Linked DNA regions of Homo sapiens. The protein of the gene in region 2 interacts with the protein of the main gene of each other region in a biochemical or structural test. Each region holds a gene or a part of one and is shown on either strand. Other genes may lie near its edges.

Region 1 (3,656 bases), on a different chromosome or scaffold from region 2:
TTTTCAAAAGCAAATTCAAATGTGCAAATAAGTGGCATTATGATTTTAAAGTATTCGGTAGTAAGAATAAACAATAAAGAACAATTTTAGAAGTATGAATAAAGCAATTTCATAAGGAGAAATTATGAGCACAGCAATATTAATAGTAGCAAAATCTTTGTTATTAGTATCCGAACATCTACACTTACCTTAAAAAGTTAAGCACAAGATCATCCTTGTGCTTTTAAAGCTTCTCCACACTGCTGATTTCTAGCAGTAATTCTAAATTATCGTTAGGATTATTAATTTTTCTCAGTAATAAATCAAGCTTTTCTTAAATCCAGCATTCAACATAGACAAAGTTCATGATCAAGCTTCAGCACTGTAAATGAGGGAAATGTTGATCTATAAACTAATGCACCCAAAGGAAAATTTCTCTCTTTGCATGGCTAATATGGACTTGACATTTATTTTCAAGTAATTGCTTTCTTTTTCTTGCTGAATGACAGCTTTATGAGCGAAGATTTCAAAATTATAAGTTGGTACATGCCTGAAATATGGGCAAGAAATAATTACCTGATTATCCTCCCATTTTAAAAAAGCTGGATAAGTGTTCAGATATACATTACACTTACACTATCTATTAAACTATTTTTTAAATAAATACTTGTTGCATTTTAACAAATTATAAATGCCCTTTCTGTAATATACTTCGACTTAGATGAATTGTTATTCTTTATCAGGCAAAAGACATTATTATAGTAGTTAGCAGTTTTCAAATGACTTTGAACTTCATTCTCTGACCTAAATACCTACAATATTCTCCATTAAGCTTGTGTTATGTACACTGTAATGAACCCTTTAATGATAACACTTACACACTCACACACATACACAGACACACACCCAAACACACATACACGCTCACACATACCAAGGCACTGGAGGGGTTAACACATTAGCATTTTGCTGTTAAAATGTGCTTAATGTACAAACTAGGATTTTATGAATAAATCTCTTACATGTAAACCTAAATTATATGAGAGATAGAAATTTTTAAGTGTTTTTGTTCATTTCAAAGCTTTCTCATTCAAGTAGTCCAAGTTATAACAAATGCCAATGACTAATCACCACATTGTAAAGAAAACATTAAATACTAATTGTTAAACTGATGAAAACGAGAATAGTATTTTGTTACTTTTTGGCTGTTGTACTAATCATGTTAAATAAAAATCACGGCTTATGTTTTTTATCAATAGTATCAAAAATATTCATAATGGTATTGTCATAAGTTTTTAATCAAGCTACATTTTACAACGTAATTTAAAGTATATTAAATGTATGTACACAAAACATTCTTCTAATATAATTAATGGTCAGCATTTCATTATATTTATATATATATACACCCATGTATGCATATAAATACATATGTAGGTGTGTGTGTATTCTCTGAGGAGATATATATTTATACATATCTCATTGTGCACCTTTTCCTTCGTAACACACATGAGCATAGGCTAAATTTTCATAATAACACTAAAAAGATAGCTAATGGTTAATAGGTTTTTTAAATTCTAAAATGGAACGTTTACAAAATTTCACAATTTTTAAATCATTCTATTACAGGTAGGTAAACTGTTGAAACGTTTTTCTTTTGCTTATGGATAATTAGCCCATGTCATATTGCCTTCCAGATTGTGGACACATTCATGTAACCCCAATATGGGGCACACTGAGATTCAGCTCTGGTTGGAAGCAGAAGTTCCATAATGAACCACTTGCCACAGCTGAAAATTCTAAGTTCGATGTATCCCACTGCTTTTTCTCCATAAGTTCAGAAGTGGCCTACTACTGAAGGCTGCTTTTGGTGGGTTTCAATTTTACAATGACTGTTGTATTTGATCAATATAGTGTGCAATAATTCTAAAGTTCTATCCTAATTACAAATGTGTACTTAGTTTTACGGTCAAAATACATTACACTGAAACTGTTTATTGTAATTTGCCACAGTTCTTTGGGTAAGGTATGTTAGATTCAGTTTAACATTTTCCCAGGGACAATTATAAACCCTCACTTTTTCTTTTCAATTTGATGTATTTACAAATTAATCTGATGCAAAATAAATTAATGAATCATGAGTATAAAAACAACTTGATATTAATTTTTTAAATTAGTAAATCTGTCCTTTATAGAAATCACTTTGTTTCCTTCTTGAGTGATTTTTAAAAACATATTTGAAAAAAAAAATTGAATCAATTTATTAGATACTTGGTTATCTCCACAAGGACACACATAATACTTGGTTTACCTGGGAGCATGTGTATCAATAAAAATTTTTTTTTTTTTTTACATACACAGCTGACTTTTTAAAATATCTCAAAAAAGCTGTACTGAAGGACAGAGACTGTGTTCCATGTTATACAACTAGTTGAATAATACCTGGAATCTGAGTAAATTGCACACCTCTAAGGCTTTCAAATTTCCCAGCCTTTCACATTTACATTCTTAGGACAAAATACCTAAAACAACCTGCATAGTTGGCATTACTTAATCACTTTCCATGACAAGGGAGGTTAAAGAATTTTAACTTTTATCTTTAAATATCACCTTTGTTTCTCATAAAATAGTACTAAAATGAAAAAATGTCATTTAATTAACATCTATAATAGCTTTGGGACTGTTTTCGGGGGACATTTTAGTTCATGATTAACTAGTAGACTTCGGATTACAAAGAATTGTTTCTCACACCATATTTGTTTATATTATTTTCTCTACAAAAGGTTTTGGGTTCACTGAAAATTTATGAAACTTTAATTTGATAATAAATCTTATTAGGTAAAATACAAATCTCTTTCAAACCAAGGAAGAAATGAGAGGTTCATGAAATTTTCCATCACTCATAATTAAATTAATACACTGTTGGCATATTTGATTGACTTTGGCAGCTAATAAGACATTTCAATAACAGTGATCCAAGGGAGAATAGTCCATTTCACATTGTATCTATCATGGGTCAATGTAATTATCCTTTGGAAGTTCTTCGGAATATTTACAATAAGATAAAAACAATTGGAATGCCAGTGTCAAATCATGGGATGAGAACACAAGGGCAAATTTACATCAGCAAATTAAAGTGCATCCTTCTTTGATGAGATTTTTTTGCATGCTCCTTGCTGATTTATGGTTTTTAACTCTTTTATGTCCCTCATAATACAAGATAGGGCATTTGTTTTCCTATGACTCTGCCCAACATGTACTAGTCATACAAAATAATCTAAAATACAGAAGTAATCATTTAATAAGTATTTTTATTCATAGGTAGCTTACTATTTTTATGTTATTTACATACTTCTTCAAATAATTTATTCTTTTGTCTCCACTTTTGGTGAAAGCAATACACTTACTGGTACAAAGCAACTGAGTGAGAACAAGCTGTTCTGTTCATGTAGTATATTTCACAGATGTCATCCAGAATAGAAGTGTTTTTGAGGTTCCACATGACCTTCTTTTTCTGCCGAAATTTTGATTTGCCTCCACTGTCGACTTGGTGATGTTATGGTTTCTCTAGGGTCTAAAATGATGAGTAAATGTGTCCTGCTTATACAGTCATGGGGTGTGTCAATGAAGAGTTCAGTATGTCAAGTTGTATACTTTGCTTTGCTCGTGGTAGCAGA
Region 2 (3,656 bases):
GCTAGAAATTTATACAAGTGGAAGGTAAGCAAATGAAGAAGCTGTGGTATCATAATGGTGAATATATGGGTCATAAATCAGTATACAGACTAGGTCTTTTATATCCGATCATCTATAAACATATATCATTAATAAGATCATAAATAATATGTTTTAAGCCACTTCTCCAGCCCTAGACAATGGCATAAGAAATTAACAGTTAGACTGGACTTCAGAGGCTTTAGGCCACAAAGATCCTCTTTCTGAGACAGAAAACCTTTTCATCACATCAGTCGAAATATTCCTCTTTTTCTCCTGTTAATGCAAGAAAAGTATTAATGCTGCTATAACATTTTAATGAAACTTAGCGAGATACTGTGACATACATTCTTTCATGTGGAACCACCTACGTAACTTTTAAGGAAGGCCAGATAGGGATTCCAGTAAGAAAATGGAATGCAGAAAGGTCCCTACCTCACCAAGTAAATATGACTTAGTAACTGCCAAAGACAGAAGTCAAACCCAGGTTTGTTTGTTTGTTTGTTTGTTTTGAGATGGAGTCTTGCTCTATCACCTAGGCTGGAGTGCAATGGCACAATCTCGGCTCACTGCAGCCTCTGCCTCCCAGGTTCAAGCAATTCTATGCCTCAGCCTCACAAGTAACTGGGATTACAGGTGTGTGCCATGACGCCCAGCTAATTTTTGTATCTTTAGTAGAGAAAAGGTTTCATGTTGGCCAGGGTAGTCTCGAACTCCTGGCCTCAAGTAATCCACCTGCCTCGGCCTCCCAAAGTGGTGGGATTACAGGCGTGAGCCACTGTGCCTGGCCTCAAACCCAAGTTTTCTAATGTTAAATCTGACACTCTTGTCCCCCCATTTCTCACTCTCTTACCTCACTTCATCCCATGAGGAGCTCTGTAGAGTTCCACTGCCACTTTCCAAGGCAAGGAGGGTAGGAGGTAGATGGATATTGTACTCCCATGAAGGGAGAAGGAAGCAGGATAGTGACAATAGCAGTCATTTTTTTTAAAAAAAATGTTATTTTGAAAATTAAATAATCTTGTTCAAGGCTGCTACTAAAAGCAGGGAGGGGGAGAATGCCAGAATAGCAAATGAAAAGAAATTATACAGAAACAATTCATTTCCATTTTCTCTAATTGAGAAGTTTTAAGTTTCCTTTTACTGATAGCTTTGACAAGATTTTTAGAAAGTTAAAAAAAAAAAACAAAAACCTCTAAATTAGTTGTATATTTAAATAACTCAGGTCCCAGTCCCCTCCCTCACCTTCCAAAGGTTCTGATTAAATAGTCTGGGATGGACTCTGGACAGTGTACATTTGCTCATTTTCAGGCCCCAAGGCATTTCTAACATGCAGCTAGAATTGAAAGCCACTGTTCTAACCTTAAATTCACATAAACTGCGGGCTGGGCGCAGTGGCTTACGCGTGTAATCCCAGCACTTTGGGAGGCAGAGACAGGTGGATCACGAGGTCAGGAGATCAAGACCATCCTGGCTAATACGGTGAAACCCAGTCTCTACTAAAAATACAAAAAATTAACTGGGTGTGGTGGCATGCACTTGTAGTCCCAGCTACACGGGAGGCTGAGGCAGGAGAATCGCTTGAACCTGGGATGCAGAAGTTGCAGTGACCCAAGATTGCGCCACTGCACTCCAGCCTGGGTGACAGAGTGAGACTCCATCTCAAAAAAAAAAAAAAAAAAAAATCACATCAACTGCAACAAATCCCCTGAAAACACTACTAATTGCCACGTGAAAGTGCTGATGATGTTATCATTAAGCTAATTTAGATAAAACCTTTAAGAGTCACATGATGTATAGCAGTACCTAGTGACATTTTTTAAATCCTGCAAAACAAAATGAAACCCAAATTTATCTCTAATTCAAGGCTTTGTTTTCAGACATGAACTTGCATTCTCTAACAGTTACAGAGAACCTCTGTTCCTATAGCAGCGGTTCCCACCAGGGCGTGGTGGAGTGAGGAAGTGATGGGTGTGGTTTTACCCTCAGGGGACCTTCTGCAATGTCTGGGGAGATTTTTGGCATCTAGCAGATGGAAGCCAGGGATGCCCTTAAGCATCTTAAAATGCATAGGACAGCCCACCACAAAGACTTATCCAGTCCAAAATGTCAATTGTGCGAACAAACCCTGCTTTATACTAAAAATCTCATTGGGGTTAGCAGCTGTGTGTTTTCCACCCTGGCTATATGAAAATGTCATGAAGATGTGGAGGAAAAAGGGGGCCATCATCAGCCCTTCTCATCAGCTTAGAGGCTTTGACTATTTCTCCAAGCAGCCATAAGTTAGTCATCCTCAACCCCTACTCCTCCATAGGGGTCTCACATATTGCACAGAAGTTGACCGAAGCTCCATGCCGTGGTCATAAATGCCACAACTCACAGGAGGGGGTGAGAACGATAACAGCCATTAAGCTCCCAAACTGGGTTTACAGCAGTGCACAACTGTGCTGTAAAACAGCTACTTGTGATAAACAGGACTCTTTAAAATACATATAGGCATTACTGAACAATTGGTGACTCTTTTAAGGACACAGATGGCATATGCATCACATCAAAACTCTCAGTAACCTAAAAAGGACAAAAAGAAAAGATGTGGCAGGAAATCTAATGCTTAACTCTTTTGCTGCATAACTGAAATCTTTAAGAACATTACTTTTTTCTACTGCTTTCCTTCAGAACTTCCCTCCTCTCTTCAACTCTAACTACCCAAGTGGGGGGAATAATCAGCAATTTTTATGAACAATTTATTATCGTTGTCAATTGAATGGAGGGAGATCAGAATAGTAGAGAAAACTCTGAATCTTAGCTTTTAGCTCAATCAACTCAAGAATCCCCTCTAAGCCTCAGGAAAACCACTTAATTGCCAGTAAAAAGCTTAGAAAACTGCGGGTTTAGAGTGAGGACCACCTCTGTTTCCTGCAACAATTAAAAACAACGAAACACTAAACAAGGACATCAATAACAAGCTATAATTTCGTAAGAGAGAAAATTCTCTACACACTAGATTTTTCTACTTAAACACCCTCACCCTAAAAGTAATGCTCTTAAACATTTCTCCTCTGGGAAATAGCCTATCAGGAGGCATTTCTAAATATAATTCAAAAGATCAATTAATTTCAGTCAATGTAGCCTAATTAAAACTAGGTTAGATGATTAAAACTGTAGCATTCGACATTGCTTACAACAATTTTTGTAGTGTTCGTTGTTGGTAGACTTCATTTGTGCAGTATTTCACATATGGGTCAAATGTGGATGCTGTGTGTTTTTCCACAATGTCACTTATGTCATCTATGAAGATATTATTCTGATGTCTTGCTTCCAACTCTATAAAGAACCTGAAAAACCAAAGGGAAAAAAAAATTAACACTTCTTTCATACACTCTAACAGATAACAGATTAGCCTCATGTAATGTTATTACACGGGGTTTGAAAATTCAACAGTACACAGTACCAACTAAAAAATATTTTTAAAATCTATAAAAATTTTATCTAAGTTTAAATCTATCATATTAACACCTCCTTGAGGATGAGCATTGTGGCTCACGCCTATAATCTCAGCACTTTGGGAGGCTGAGGCAGGAAGATCACTTGAGGCCAGGAGTTCAAGACAAGACAAAACCAAAAAAAAAAAAAAAAAA
Region 3 (3,656 bases), on a different chromosome or scaffold from region 2:
GAGGTGGAGGTTGCAGTGAGCCGAGAATGTGCCATTGCACTGCAGCCTGGGCAAAAAGAGCGAAACTCCGTCTCAGAAAACAACAACAACAACAACAACAACAAAACGGCGTTCTGTGGCCTAAATGGAGGCCCTTCTTGTCTTCCTGGTTTTCTCTCTAAAATTATAGAGTACCCACATCTAACAAATACCACCCTGCTTTAGACGCTCTAAGAGAACTCAGATTAGCCGGCAGAAGAAACATTTACATCTGCCCATTTTTCTCTCTTTTGGTATTTCTATGATGGCAGATGTTCCTACCACAAAGAAATGATACATTTGATGTGATGGATATGCTGATTACCCTGATTTAATCATTGCACACTTGGGTCTCTTTATGCCATTCACCCTCTGATGGCAAAGCCGCAAGCGTCAGGCTCTTGTTCTATTTGGTTCCCTACTCCTGCGTGGATGCAGCAGGGCCCTCATGGACCTCTCAGTCCCAGTATCTGGCCAGTGGTGTGTGGGTTTGGCTCACACTGGGGGATGTGAATGATGTACTTCAGTGTAAAACAGTCCAAGTGCCGAGCTCAAGAGGCTTCCTTTTTAGTGCAGGGGCTGAGGCTAACTAGGGAAAACATACAGAATACGAAAGCTGGGATACAGGTCTACACCGAGCTCTGGCTGTCTTGACGAATTCAGAGGAGTGGGAGAGTGAGAAGCCAGATTATCCCAGGAAGACTTGACAGAGGAGGTGGGGACATGAATGGGGCTGACAAGGGGAGTTTGGCCAGAGAGTGAGGAGGAGGAAGGTAAGGAAGACAATGGAAGAGTACCGTTAAAATGTCCATACTACCCAAAGTCATCTATAGATTCGGTACAATTCCTACCAAAATTCCAATGACATTTTTTACAGAAATAGAAAAAAAAAAAACAGTTGTAAAATGTGCATGGAACCACAAAGGACTCTGAATAGCCAAGGCAGTTTGAGTGTAAAAAAAACAAAAGACAAAACAAAACAACAACAACACAACAAAAACAGGGCTGGGCATGGTGGCTCACGCCTGTAATCCCAGCACTTTGGGAGGCCAAGGCGGGTGGATCACCTGAGGTCAAGAGTTCGAGACCAGCCTGGCCAACATGGTGAAATTCCCGTCTCTACTAAAAATACAAAAATTAGCTGAGTGTGGTGGCACACGCCTGTAATCCCAGCTACTTGTGAGGCTGAGGCAGGAGAATCGCTTGAACCTGGGAGGTGGAGTTGCAGTGAGCCAAGATCATGCCATTGTATTCCAGCCTGAGTAACAGAGCAAGACTCCGTCTCAAAAAAAAAAAATAATAATAAGGTATTGCATTTATTGAAATAGCTAGAAGAGAGAATTTGGGATGTTCCTACCACAAAGACATGATACATTTGATGTGATGGATATGCTAATTACCCTGATTTAATCATTGCACAATGTATATATGTACTGAAGTACCACTTTGTGCTCCATAAGTATGTACAATTATGTGTCAATTAAAAAAAAAAAAAGGCAGCTGGGCACGGTGGATCACGCCTGTAATCCCAGCACTTTGGGAGGCCAAGGCAGGTGGATCACTTGTCAGGAGTTTGAGACCAGCTTGGCCAACATGGTGAAACCCTATCTCTACGAAAAATACAAAAATTAACCAGGCATGGTGGCATGCACCTGTAATCCCAGCTACTTGGGAGGCTGAGGCACGAGATTCGCTTGAACCCAGGAGGTAGAGGTCAGTGAGCTGAGATTGCACCACTGCCTTCAAGCCTGGGCAACAGAGCAAGACTCTGTCTCAAAAAAAAAAAAAAAAAAAAAAAAAAGGCAACAGAATGAAAGCAGAGAAGCAAGAAAGAGCCTGAAATCTTGGAGGTGGCAGGGCAAGGGGATGTGTGCCAGTGGACAGTGGGAAGTCATCTAGGAGGTGGGTTCCAACAGCCACTCACTCCTGAAAGTGCCTGTTCATAAGGCCCTGCATAGTCTTGGGCTAATCTTCCACCTCAGACACACAGCATCTTGCAACAGGGAAAAAAAATCTGGCATCAGAAAGAACAAAGCTATTTTCTTAGGAACTATGGGTCTGAGGTTGGAGTGAAAAATGAAGTTCCATGAAAGCTCTTGGTTTGAGAATTAAGTCAAACCAACTCTTCCCCAAATATTATGTTCGTTCCACAGCTCTCACATAAAATCATCTTAATTGCATTTTTTTAACCTGCTGACCTTGCTATGTGAATAATTAAGAACTAATTATTAGGACTCAGCCCTGTGCTAAGAGGTTTTCCAATAATTAAGGAGTTAACACTGTGCTAAGAGTTTTGTACACATTTAATTTTCCTCCTAACACTGAGGTATGTCCTGTGACCATCTGCATTGGAAGGATGAGGACGGAGAAACAGCGTGGTTAAGCAATGTGTCTGAGGTCAGAGTTCACAGGTGGCAGAGCCAGCGGTCGCCCCAGGAAGCTGGCTCCACAGCCCATGCTACTGCCTAAACCCTGACTATGTGGCCTCTGTGTGGAGAGCCCTTGGCAATCAAAAGGTTGGATCGTCGAGATCCCCATGGAGACCGTACTAGCTACTAGCTTTCCAGGCCCACTGTGGAAGGCCAGGGGCCTGCCAAGACTCAAAGCCACGTGCTCTTCTCCTTCTCTGCTCAACCTTTTTTGAACTTCCCCTTAAGCATAATGTTCCTGCTTCTGGTGACAGCAAATATGGGCGGTAGTGCGGGTGGTGGTGGGGAGTAGCAATGACACAAAAGGAGGGGATTTAAACTCTGTTTTTAAATTTCATATTCAGGCCGTGGGCGGTGGCTCATGCCTGTAATCCCAGCACTTTGGGATGCTGAGGCCAGGCAGATCACTTGAGGTCAGGAGTTCGAAACCAGCCTGGCCAACATGGGGAAATCCCATCTCTACTAAAAATACAAAAATTAGCCAGGTGTGGTGGTGCACGTCTGTAATCCCAGCTGCTTGGGAGGCTGAGGCAGGAGAACTGCCTGAACCTGGGAGGCGGAGGTTGCAGTGAGCCGAGATCGAGCCACTGTACTCCATCCAGCCTGAGCGACAGAGCAAGAATCCGTCTCAAAAATAAACAAATTTCATATTCGCTCACTGAATAAACCTAAACAGGCAATTCATGTTAGCAATTTGACTTTATTGCAAAGTCTGTAACTTAAAAGGTCTTCATCTGAGGGAGACGAGGTTACACTGAGGCAGCCTTTGGTTGTCACCTTTCAAGACAACCTTTTCTCTGGAAACGTTCGAAATGCCCAATCATGGGAGGAAGGTTGACTCGTTACAGCACATCCGTGGGGTGGAAGGCCCAGCAGCCTCTCCAGGTGATGTCGGGTGTAGAAGAGCCTGCAGGATAGCAGTGCGGTTTCCTAGAGTAGGCTATGGGTGTGCTGACAGCAGAGTGGTCAGTGCGAGGGACAGCCTGCTAGGTCAGGCCCATGGGCTGAGGAGCAGTCTTACTGATGCCAGCAGGCTGCTCAAATATTATTTCGTGTGGATGTATGAGGTTTAAAAAGGTTGTTAGGTACTGGTGACTACCACAGTGGATTTTTTTTTTTTTTTTGGCAAAAAGACAAAAAAAGCACAGGACTATATATTTATTCACACCCATATACGCACAAGACTCAAATGATACAGACCAAAATATT

Evidence for each region.
Region 1: the proteins of ARHGEF26 (region 2) and SNTG1 interact in a test that uses a peptide from one of them, tested with the Homo sapiens proteins (one large-scale study listed by IntAct).
Region 3: the proteins of ARHGEF26 (region 2) and PDZD2 interact in a test that uses a peptide from one of them, tested with the Homo sapiens proteins (one large-scale study listed by IntAct).

Annotation. Positions count from the first base shown.
Region 1 is NC_000008.11:50,792,794-50,796,449, reverse strand, and holds part of SNTG1 (gamma-1-syntrophin), read right to left. Parts: coding exon 3,621-3,656; 3' UTR 1-3,620. UniProt on the Homo sapiens protein: Adapter protein that binds to and probably organizes the subcellular localization of a variety of proteins. May link various receptors to the actin cytoskeleton and the dystrophin glycoprotein complex.
Region 2 is NC_000003.12:154,187,382-154,191,037, reverse strand, and holds part of ARHGEF26 (rho guanine nucleotide exchange factor 26), read right to left. Parts: intron 3,354-3,656; coding exon 3,201-3,353; intron 1-3,200. UniProt on the Homo sapiens protein: Activates RhoG GTPase by promoting the exchange of GDP by GTP. Required for the formation of membrane ruffles during macropinocytosis. Required for the formation of cup-like structures during trans-endothelial migration of leukocytes.
Region 3 is NC_000005.10:32,083,112-32,086,767, reverse strand, and holds part of PDZD2 (PDZ domain-containing protein 2), read right to left. Parts: intron 1-3,656.